Regions from separate parts of the Homo sapiens genome. Here region 2 is linked to region 1. A link means that fine-mapping ties the variant in region 1 to the expression of a gene that starts in the linked region. Tissue or cell type: whole blood. Region 1 holds a variant in brackets; the other region holds the start of a gene. All regions are shown on one strand. Distances are between the middles of the regions.

The links. PIP is the estimated chance that this variant, and not a neighbour inherited with it, causes the effect.
Region 2: ACTR2 starts here. The variant in region 1 is fine-mapped to the expression of ACTR2 in whole blood (INTERVAL, PIP 0.95).

The regions. Positions count from the first base shown.
Region 1 is chr2:65,292,283-65,297,429 of GRCh38, forward strand. LOC124907781 (a long non-coding RNA gene) reads right to left here and starts at 3,501. Exons shown (of 2, transcript XR_007086472.1): 1 at 673-3,501; 2 at 1-579. RefSeq lists a silencer at 3,508-3,690. The variant C/T (reference allele first, on the strand shown) is at 3,198.
Region 2 is chr2:65,224,611-65,229,757 of GRCh38, forward strand. It overlaps ACTR2 (actin related protein 2), which reads left to right and starts at 3,221. Exons shown (of 9, transcript NM_005722.4): 1 at 3,221-3,347. The coding sequence starts at 3,300. LOC124907779 (a long non-coding RNA gene) reads right to left here and starts at 2,989. Exons shown (of 2, transcript XR_007086461.1): 1 at 2,871-2,989. RefSeq lists enhancers at 2,212-3,101, 3,102-3,990, 4,063-4,152 and a silencer at 3,373-3,562.

The DNA.
Region 1 (5,147 bases):
CTTTGGACCTTCAAACCAACTTAAGAGATGGTAATTATTAGCACTTGCTATGTGCAGGTTGTCCATGCATCATCTCATTTTATTCTCATGAGATTCCAAAATAGAGTGCCACTGTCCTGCTAACGCTTGAGGAAAGTGGGGCCCAGAGCAGCGAAGCCACTGCCCAGGCTCACAGCGGCGAGAAGCGAAGGAGCCAGGGCGGGACTGAGCCCAGGCACGGTCCTGACCCGCTGCCTCTGAACCTGGTCAGGGCTTCATCCCTTCCTGCTGGAGAAATCGCTGCCAAAGCCTGCTCACACAGCCCCTGGGCGGCGGAGGCGAGGTGAAGCCAGTCAGCCTTTCTCCGAGACTTCCAACTCACCGGGCCTGGAGCTCGTCCCCTTCTCAGCCCAGCGCTGAGCCCCCAAGACTTGGCTCCCGGCTACCACATCTGCTTGGAGAAGAAATGGGTGTGGCCCAAAGAGCAGATTTATGTTGTCCTCAGCGCCTTGGGCTCCATCCCAGCTGCACAGAATTGGATGGATGACAAGGATAAATGTGTTTGGCTCCGGGCTCAGTCACTGAGGATTTATTTAGCACCTGCAATAATAAAAAAATCACAATGCTGCAGCGCTCCAGGCACCACATGGGCATGCGGGGGAAACGGGAGTCTGTAGGGGGGAAGACACTCACCTGCCTGCTCTCTAGCTGCTTGCAATCTGGCTGTGGGAGAGAGATGAATCCCGCGGCATCTCAGAGGAGGAGGGAGGTGGGATGTATTTGAGATGAGGAGCCTGAGAGGTTAAGTACTTTGTTTGAGGTTACACAGCTAATGAGGAACCAAACGAGAGCTGCCGATTTATTGACACTTATCATGAGTTTTCGTTGTTGCAAACATACGTGAAAAAATAAAATTTAAAAGCACAGCTAAGCAACGCAGGAGAAAAAAATCACCCCAAATCCCACCACCCAGAGTTAGCCACCAACACCCTCACCTCCATGCGTTTTCTTTCCTTGTGCAGATATGCATGGACATGTCTACAGTGTGTATGCCCTTAGTTTACGAAGCTGGATACTGCACAGTATACCGCTCAGGAAACTGCTTATCTCCTTTCAGATGCAGATCAGCTATTTTTTTTCTTTTTTAGAGACAGGGTCCTTGCTATAGTGCCCAGGCTGGTTTTGAACTCCTAGGCTGAAGCAGTGCTCCCACCTCAGCCTCCCAAAGTGTGGGATTACAGGCAGTAGCCACCAGCCCACCCTGCATCAGCTATTTAAATGGCTCCCAGCTGCGGCTGTGGAGTTCAGCAGGGGCTGCTGTCAGGCAGGGAGAAGGGGGAGTTTCCAGGATAATTCTCTCTCCTAGAGGCAGCGCTGGGCTCCTGGAAGGAGGAGAACCTCCAAACCAGGCCTCAGGAGGCAGGTGGGAGGATAGGCGGGCGGCAAGCGACATCCAGAAGGAAAAGCTGGGCCTGGTGAGACAAGTGTTGGGGGGCTGAAGAAAAGAGAGACTGAAGGGAGCCATTTCAGGTCTGGGGGGGGCCAGGGGGTAGCAGAATGTAGAAAAGGGTATGCTTTGGGGTTCCTCTAAAAGATGGGAGGAGCTGGCAAGCCCTGGCCTTAAGGAAAGGAAAAGTCCCATCTCTGGGTTCTTTAGCTAACAAAAGCCACTGACCCCTGTAGCTTCCCCATGCCTGTTCAGAAGGTGCTTCAGCCAGTAAAAAGGCAAAAAAGCAGCGTTTTCCCAAATGTGTCCCTGGAAAGACAAATCCCATAAAAGGATTCACCAGAAAAAAGGCTTAAAAAAAAGTTTGAGAAATGAGATGTACAGTCATTTCATCTCAGAGAATCGCAACACACAGAAACTTACCTGCAGCCCTGAGAAGTAAGAGATCCGCAGAACCTGGGTTTCCCAAGTTTATTTTCTCGGGTAGCTCTCACTGCCTAAGGAATTTCCCTTGTGCTCCCGCCCAGTGATGTTGGAGAAGACACCGCAGAGCCACTGGGCTGGGCATCTCCCTCAACAAGGCAGCCTCCTTAAGATCACAGGAAAGCCCCAGGCCTCACGGCAGGTTTACACCCTGTGTGCCCCGGCAGCCCTGTGAAAGGGCAGAAGTCAGTGATCCCAAGGTCTCTTCCAGCTCCAGCACTCTATCCTGTTTCTGCAGCTCATGCCCAATCAAATCTCACTTCAGGGGAATATCCATGGAGTGTGGTGGCCTGGGGCAGTTGTATTTGCTGGATAAATTCACTTATTTAATTCAACAAATATTTCTTGAATCCTTACTATGTGCCAGATACTGTTCTAGGCATTGGGGATTCCAAAGTCAGTAAAATAAAATCTGGGGGAAACAGACTACAGACAAATGTAATAACTATATCATGTATATGTCAGCTAAGGACTTTGGAGAGAAATAAAGTATGGTAAACAAAAAGTGTGGGGTGGCAAGGCTGAGAGAGGGATACTCTGTTAGATAAAGTGATCCGGGAAGGCTTTTCTAAAGAGGTGACTTGTGAGCAGAGACTAGCAGGAAGTGAGGGATAAAGCCATGCGGAGATCCCAGGGCTGAGCGTTCAGGCAGAAGAAACAGCAAGGGCAAACATTCTGAGGCAGGAACAAGGAGGCACACGAGGGGAACATTGTGGCTCAAGGGAATAAAAGAGGGGGAGCGTGTTAGGAGATGAGGTCAGAGAGTGAGTGGGGGCCAGATCTCCTAGGACTGGAAGGCCAAGATAAGAACTTCGGATATTTATTCAGAGATGAGAAGCCAGTGGAGGGGTTGAGGAGGGGCATAATGTGAGGTACAAGGAAGAATTTCTGCTTTCTAATAGGGATAAACAGTTTTCTAAATAGGGAGAGCCTACCCTCTGCCTTGGAACTTATGAAAAGAAGTTGAATTTTCATTTGATGGTTGAAGATCTTGCAAGGCCTTGGTACTGGTCATCCATCGTTGTACAGACACTTACTCAGTACTCCAAGCTCCCACCTGCCATGGTGGCAAGGAATTTGATCTCAGTCATATTTCAAGAGGCAGGTCTTCTTTTCACCCATGGCTACACGTGAGTCCAGCAACTTACAGGTGCCTGGGAAGGGAAGGGTCTCTGGTCTCCAGTCCATCATGGATAATGCAACTTTATGTTCATGGTCCAAGTCCATTGGTCTTTTCAAAGGCAAGCAGCTCTATCCTCCATAACCAACAGGGCTTCCAAGATCCTTC[C/T]CTTGGGTCCAGGACCATAGCTCTAAGAACTCAGTCTCCTGGTATCTACTCACCACCCACTGGCAGTCGGGCATTGGTGGATGCTGCATGCATGAGTAAGGCACCGTCACCTTTCCTCAAGCCTCTTATAATCTTTGGTCCAACAGACAAGTACACCAGCGTTTATGGTTGGGGAGGCTGGGCTCTGCTGGGGCAGTGGGATAGAACATAGTGCTGTTTTCCCTATGAGAAATAAGCCAAAGTAGGATACACAACTCCATGTCTTAAGTGTTTTTATTATTTATTTATTTATTTATTATTATTATTATTATTTTTTTATTTTATTTTTTTTTGAGACAGAGTCTCGCTCTGTTCCCAGGCTGGAGTGCAGTGGTGCGATCTCGGCTCACTGCAAGCTCCGCCTCCCAGGTTTACGCCATTCTCCTGACTCAGCCTCCCAAGTAGCTGGGACTACAGGCGCCCGCCACCACGCCCAGCTAATTTTGTTTTTGTATTTTTAGTACTGATGGGGTTTCACCGTGTTAGCCAGGATGGTCTTGATCTCCTGATCTTGTGATCCACCCACCTCAGCCTCCCAAAATGCTGGGATTACAGGCGTGAGCCACTGCGCCCGGTCCTATTTTTTATTTTTTGAGATGGAATCTCACTCTGTCATCTCGGCTTACTGCAACCTCCATTTCCCAGGCTCAAGTGGTCCTCCTGCCTCAGCCTCTCAAGTAGCTGGGACTACAGACATGTGCTACCATGCCTGGCTAATTTTTTTTGTATTTTTGGTAGACACGGGGTTTCACCATATTGCTCAGGCTGGTCTCGAACCCCTGACCTCAAGTGATTCGCCTTCCTTAGCCTCCCAAAGTGCTGGGATTACAGGTGTCAGCCACCGTACCCGGCCTTAAGATTTTTTTAGAAAGATAACTTGAAACTCTGGGTGATGGGAATCAGGCAGGGGCAGGTTCCGACTGAGCCCTGAAACCTCACCTGGACCCTCCACTCCGCCTGGGAGGAAGACCCAGGTCACCTTAGTCAGGAAGCAGGAATGCCGCAATGACCTGCCGCAGTGGAGATTTGTCCTCTTCTGTGTACAACATTTTTCAGTAAAGGGTACGGTGTCAGCTGGCAGCATTGCTGCAGCACTAATGAAGTTTAGGAAGTGCTTAGCTGAAAAGGGCATGGGTGGGGTAATTGAATTGGTGTCAGACACATAATGGCTTTGAGAGTCTTTTCTCCCTCATTTGATAAGAAGAGCCCTTTCCCTCACATCCTCCGTAAAAGCTCAAGGAGAAAAGGATGTTCACCCAGCTATACATCAATCCTGTCTATTGACTACGAGTTTTGGGAAATCATATGGAGAAGCATACTTTTTACGAAGGCTTTGGGGACTGTTAATAGCAGGCTGGGCAAAGCACAGGAAGAGGCTACGAATGAGTGTTTTCCACAGGACGCTGCCAGGTGATAAAATATTAAAACCATTACCAACACTCCCACTTCAAGGAATGGTCTTAATGATTCTGTCAGATATCTGGGTCCTGTGGTCAAATGGACAGTGAGCTTTTTGGGCCTCATCAAAAAATAGCTTACTGGGTGCCAGGTCCTGTGCTAAACGCTTACACGTTGTCTCCTTTCATCTTCACAACAACCCAAGAGGGAGGAGCTATTGTTATCCCCATTTCACATATGCAAAAACTGAGGCTTGCCCAAAACCACACAGTTCTGATGTGGCAAAGCTTGGCTTGAAATCTAAGATTGGGATTCCAAAGCCAATGCTTTCCTTCTTTACTTCCCTGATTAAAAAACGTAAAGGTGGCCTGGCGCGGTGGCTCATGCCTGTAACCCCAACACTTTGGGATGCGGAGGCAGGCGGATCACCTGTGGTCAGGAGATCAAGACCAGCCTGGCCAACATGGTGAAACCCTGTCTCTACTAAAAATACAAAAAAATTAGCTGGCCATG
Region 2 (5,147 bases), 68 kb before region 1:
ATCTATTCAAATATTTTCTTCTAGTTCATGGCTTTTCTTTTTCTTTTTCTTTTTTTTTTTTTTTTTTGAGATGGAGTTATGCTCTGTTGCCCAGGCTGGAGTGCAGTGGCATGATTTTGGCTCACTGCAACCTTTGCCTCCTGGATTTAAGCAATTCTCCTGCCTCAGCCTCCCAAGTAGCTGGGATTGCAGGTGCCCGCCACCACGCCCAGCTAATTTTTGTATTTAGTAGAGATGGGGTTTCACCATGTTGGCGAGGCTGGTCTCAAACTCCTGACCTCAGGTGATCCACTCGCCTCAGTCTCCCAAAGTGCTGGAATTACAGGCGTGAGCCACTGCGCCCGGCCCTTTTGCTTTATTTTCTACTTTTTTTTTAATTGCTTGTTGCCTAAGACAGACCAAGATTTTTTGTTTTTGTTTTCTTCTTCTTTTTTTTTTTTTTTTTTTTTTAGATAGGGTCTGGCTGTCACCCAGGCTGTAGCGTAGTAGCGCAATCTCAGCTCACTGCAAATTCTGCCTCCTGGGCTCAAACCATCTTCCCACCTCTGCCTCCCAAGTAGCTGGGACTATATGCACAGCTAATTTTTGTATTTTTTGTAGAGATGGGGTTTCACCATCTGGCCTAGGCTGGTCTTGAACTCCTGAGCTCAAGCGATCCACCCACCTTGGTCTCCCAAAGTGCTGGGATTACAGATGTGAGCCATTGTCCCAGTCTAGATTTTTTGTTTCAATACATGAACTAAAAGCTTTAAATTTCTATTATGTCAACTATCAATTTTTTCTTTTATAGATCACGATTTTAGCGTCATATCTAAGCAAACTTTGCTTAACTTAATATCAAAAGATTTTCCTCTTTTTCTTCTGAAATTTATAGTTTTAGCTTTTATATTTAGGTCTATGATCCACTTAAATCAATTTTTATGTGTGATGTGAGGTAAGAATCAAAGTTCTTTTTTTTCCCTCCCACATCATTCATTGAAAAGATTACCCTTTCCCCATGGATTGTTTTAGCACCATTGTTGAAAATCAACTGACCATAATGTAAAGGTTTATTTGTGGACTATTTGATTCCATTGATCGATATATCTGCCTCTATGCCAGTATTACAGTCTTCATTACTGTAGCTTTATAATAAGTTTTGAATTCAGGTAGTGGAAGTTCTCCATCTTTTTCTGTTTCGAAATCCTTTTATTCTGGTTCCTTTTCATTTCATATAAATTTTAGGGCCAAACTTGCCAATTTTTTTTTTTTTTTTTTGAGACAGAGTCTTGCTCTCACCAGGCTGGAGTGCAGTGGCACGATCTCTGTCACTGCAACCTCTGCTTCCCGGGTTCAAGCGATTCTCCTGCCTCAGCTTCCTGAGTGGCTGGGATTACAGGCGCGTGCCAACACGCCCAGCTAATTTTTGTATTTTTAGTAGAGACGGGGTTTTGCCATGTTGGTCAGCCTTGTCTTGAACTCCTGATCTCAGGTGATTTGCCCTCCTTGGCCTCCCCAAGTGCTGGGATTACAGGCGTGAGCCACCGCGCCCGGAATAATGTTCTTTCTTTAAAAATACAAATTAGCAATCCCCTTAATTCCACAAAGAGGAAAAGTAAAAGAACACAGAAATGCTTGAGTTCAATTTGCTGAGACCAATAAAATGCACTTTCAAGAAAACTGCACAGCACTAGCATTGGAGGCCACAAAAATAAGATACGGACTCTATACTCAAGGAATTTATGAACAAATAAATTTTTCTGCTGGCTGAGGTACTTCTCTGACTGTTAAAGCAGGTAAAACGAAGAAATGTTCCTCCGAGACTTCCTACCTATTCTAACCTCTCAAACTTCTAATTGCAACAATGGCAGCTTTATTTTTATCTTAATATTTATGTGTTGAGGGTTCCATATAAGATTAGATTTGAATAAAGCACTGTATGCCTTTAAAAAGGTTTGAAAATCACTGGTCTAATAAAAGAACAGTGAAAACTGACAGGCAGCTATATTATAAAAAGAATACTGGATTGAGGGTTCATGATGACTGTTTTATTCTAGTTGTTGAACATGTACAGCCATGTCGAAGGAAAAGTTCTATTTCTCACCTCTCATAAAGGATGGCATTTTAAAGGTGAATTTTAATGTCATTCATCTAATAAATATTTGTTGCATGCAATAAGCACAATGTTATTCATATATTCATAGTAAAGTAATAGGGAGAAAGGAAGTACGGAATATCCTGAGGATATCAGCTGTCATCAGAGATGTAACAAGCTGGGTCTCAGAGCACAAGTTTGCCAATTGATTAAAAAGGAAAAAAAATGAGGCATCGTAGATAGAATCATAGGTCCAGAAGAACAGAATTAGAAATAGCTACCACTGAATGAACATTTCCTCCATGCATAGACTTTTATCCTCACCACACCTATGGAGATAGAAGTTATTATCCCCATGCAGACAGGGGTATGCCAAAATCACAAAACTCGTGAGTGGCAGCGCCACGTTTGAAACTGGGGTTGTCTGATTTCAAAGCCAAGGCTCTGGGTTCACAGAAGTACATGTACTTAAGAGGTGTGAAGCAACATGGGACTACTGGAAGGAGGCGGTGAGCCACGAGGCTGGAAATGCAGGCACCTGCTCTCGCTCACTTGACCATAGAGCAACTTGGGCAAAGAAGGGGTGGGCTGACATTGGAGTATGGAACAAACGCATGATTTCAAATAAGCATGTGTGTATCCATCCCAGTTCTGTCCGCTGAAAAGGCCTAGAAGCAATAACACACCAAGCCCTGTCGAATGGTGGGGTCCGCCAGGACCTCCAGGCTTGCTCCCCGCCCTACCCGCCAGCTTCTCCGCCACATTCCACTGCCGCAGCAGAACCGGTGTCCTTCACCTGCCTGCGTCTTCTGCAGTTCGTTAAGCAGCGCCCTTAGCTCCTGTGACACTTTAGGGAGAAAGCCGCAGCACCGGCGATGTTGGCCGCCATTAACGCCCGGCAAAGCGCCCGGAACTAGAAGCAGCGAAGAACCCGGGTGGGCAGCGACCGTGACAGCCGAGCCGGAAGCGGAGCTGCGGGAGGGGCCTCGACGCTCCTCCATCTTTTATTGGAGCTCACCGCTGCCAGTCGCGCTGCCTGCCCGTCCCACCCTTTTCGTGCAGGCATTCAGCTAAATGACGGGCGGAGCCCGGCGGCGGCTTCCGGTCGGGGGAAAAAAGTTGGGCCGAAGGAGGGGCCGGGAAGACGCAAGAGGAAGAAGAGAAAACGGCCGGGCGGCGGTGGCTGTAGGTTGTGCGGCTGCAGCGGCTCTTCCCTGGGCGGACGATGGACAGCCAGGGCAGGAAGGTGGTGGTGTGCGACAACGGCACCGGGGTAAGGGCCGCGCGAGGAGGCCTTGGCGGCCACAGACGCCGGCGGGGACGAGCAGCTGGCGCACGGGCCCTCGGCCCCCAGGGCTGCACCTCCGGGCCCTCGGGGCGAAGGGGCGCGGGGCGGTGCCTCCCACCTCCGCGGGCGTGGGAGCGAGCCGGCCGTTCCCTGGTCTCCCTTGAGCCTGCCACCCATTTAGCCTGCCACCCCCTCACCCTTCCGGGTGGGGGCGGCGGGCGAGACCGGCACTGGACATGGAGCCTACTGACCGCCCGGCAGGGACCTGCTCCGCGCTAATGCGGGGGCAATTGGGCTAAAGCGGACGGAAGCGTAAAAGGCTCGGTTTGTGTGTTCCGAGAAGGGCTCTTTTCCCCAGGGCCACCGGTTTGTAAAAAGGAGAAAGACCTAGAGGCCTTCCTCTTCCTGTATAGTTGAAGATACACCAAACGAGAAGCAGGAAGCGGGTTTACTTAAAAAAAAAAAAAAAAAAAGGGAAGTGCTGTCATGGAGTGTGGACCTCAGCCCTTTCGCTGTGTTTGTTGGGCTTTTTATTAGTTTTTTCGAGGGAAGGGGTCCAGATCGGCAGCGCATCGTTCACTTTTTGTTTTACATACTAGTATTTGGCCCAGGAGTAGGCCCACGGAGACCAGCATGTTCCATTGAGTGGTTTTGGGTGACCTAGGATCCCGCAAGACTCAAGTGTTAATTCCACTAGCCTTAGGGGAAGTTAATTAGTGTTGATTATCCCACCCCCAGCCCCCTTTTTTCCCTTCGTTTCAGTATACAGGTAATGTTAGCCTTTAAGATTCAAAAATTGTAAAATCTGACTAAAGCACTGATTTAGAAACTATTTGAAAATTGTTTCTGTAATCCCAGCACTTTGGGAGGCCCAGGCGGGCAGATCACCAGAGGTTAGGAGTTCGAGACCAGCCCAGCCAACGTGGTGAAACCCCGGTCTCTACTAAAAATACAAAAATTAGCCGGCCGTGGTGGTGCTTGCCTGTAATCCCAGCTACTTGGGAGGCTGAGGCAGGAGAATCCCTTGAAGCCAGGAAGCGGAGGTTGCAGTGAGCCGAGATTGCGCCACTGCACTCCAGCCTGGGCGACAAGAGTGAAACTCCGTCTCAATTATAAAAAAAAAAAATTGTTTCATTCAGACCTCCCTCTTGCCAGATTAAAAAAAAATGTATTTTGGGTAGCAAAGTCAGCAAATTAGAAGATGGAAATATTATTTATTCTGGATGACTTCTATAGTGATTTCTAACCATTTTGATGTTGCAACATTTTGTGAGTTTTCTCCCCTCCCTCCCATAAATATGATGTATGAATTAAAGTTCATTTTACTTGAACAAAACACTTTGGAATCTGAATTGTTGAGGGGGAAAAGAGCTGGTATTTACTGCCATAATACTGCCCTTGATTAGATTTGTTACACAATTTTACAAGCAATAATTATGGTAGCTTCATCTGAACTGTGTTAAAAATGGACTAGAGTAAAAAGAGTGTTAACGTACATTGAGGCCAGGCGCGGTGGCTCATGCCTGTAATCCCAGCACTTTGGGAGGTCTAGGCGGGCGGATCACCTGAAGTCAGGAGTTTGAGACCAGGCTGGCCAACATAGTGAAACCCCGTCTCTACTAAAAATACAAAAATTAGCCGGGCATGGTGGTGGGCGTCTGTAATCCCAGCTACTCGGTAGGCTGAGGCAGGAGAATCGCTTGAACCCGGTAGGCGGAGGTTGCAGTGAGCCGAGATCGCACCACTCCAGCCTGGGCGACAGAGCAAGACTCCGTCTCAAAAAAA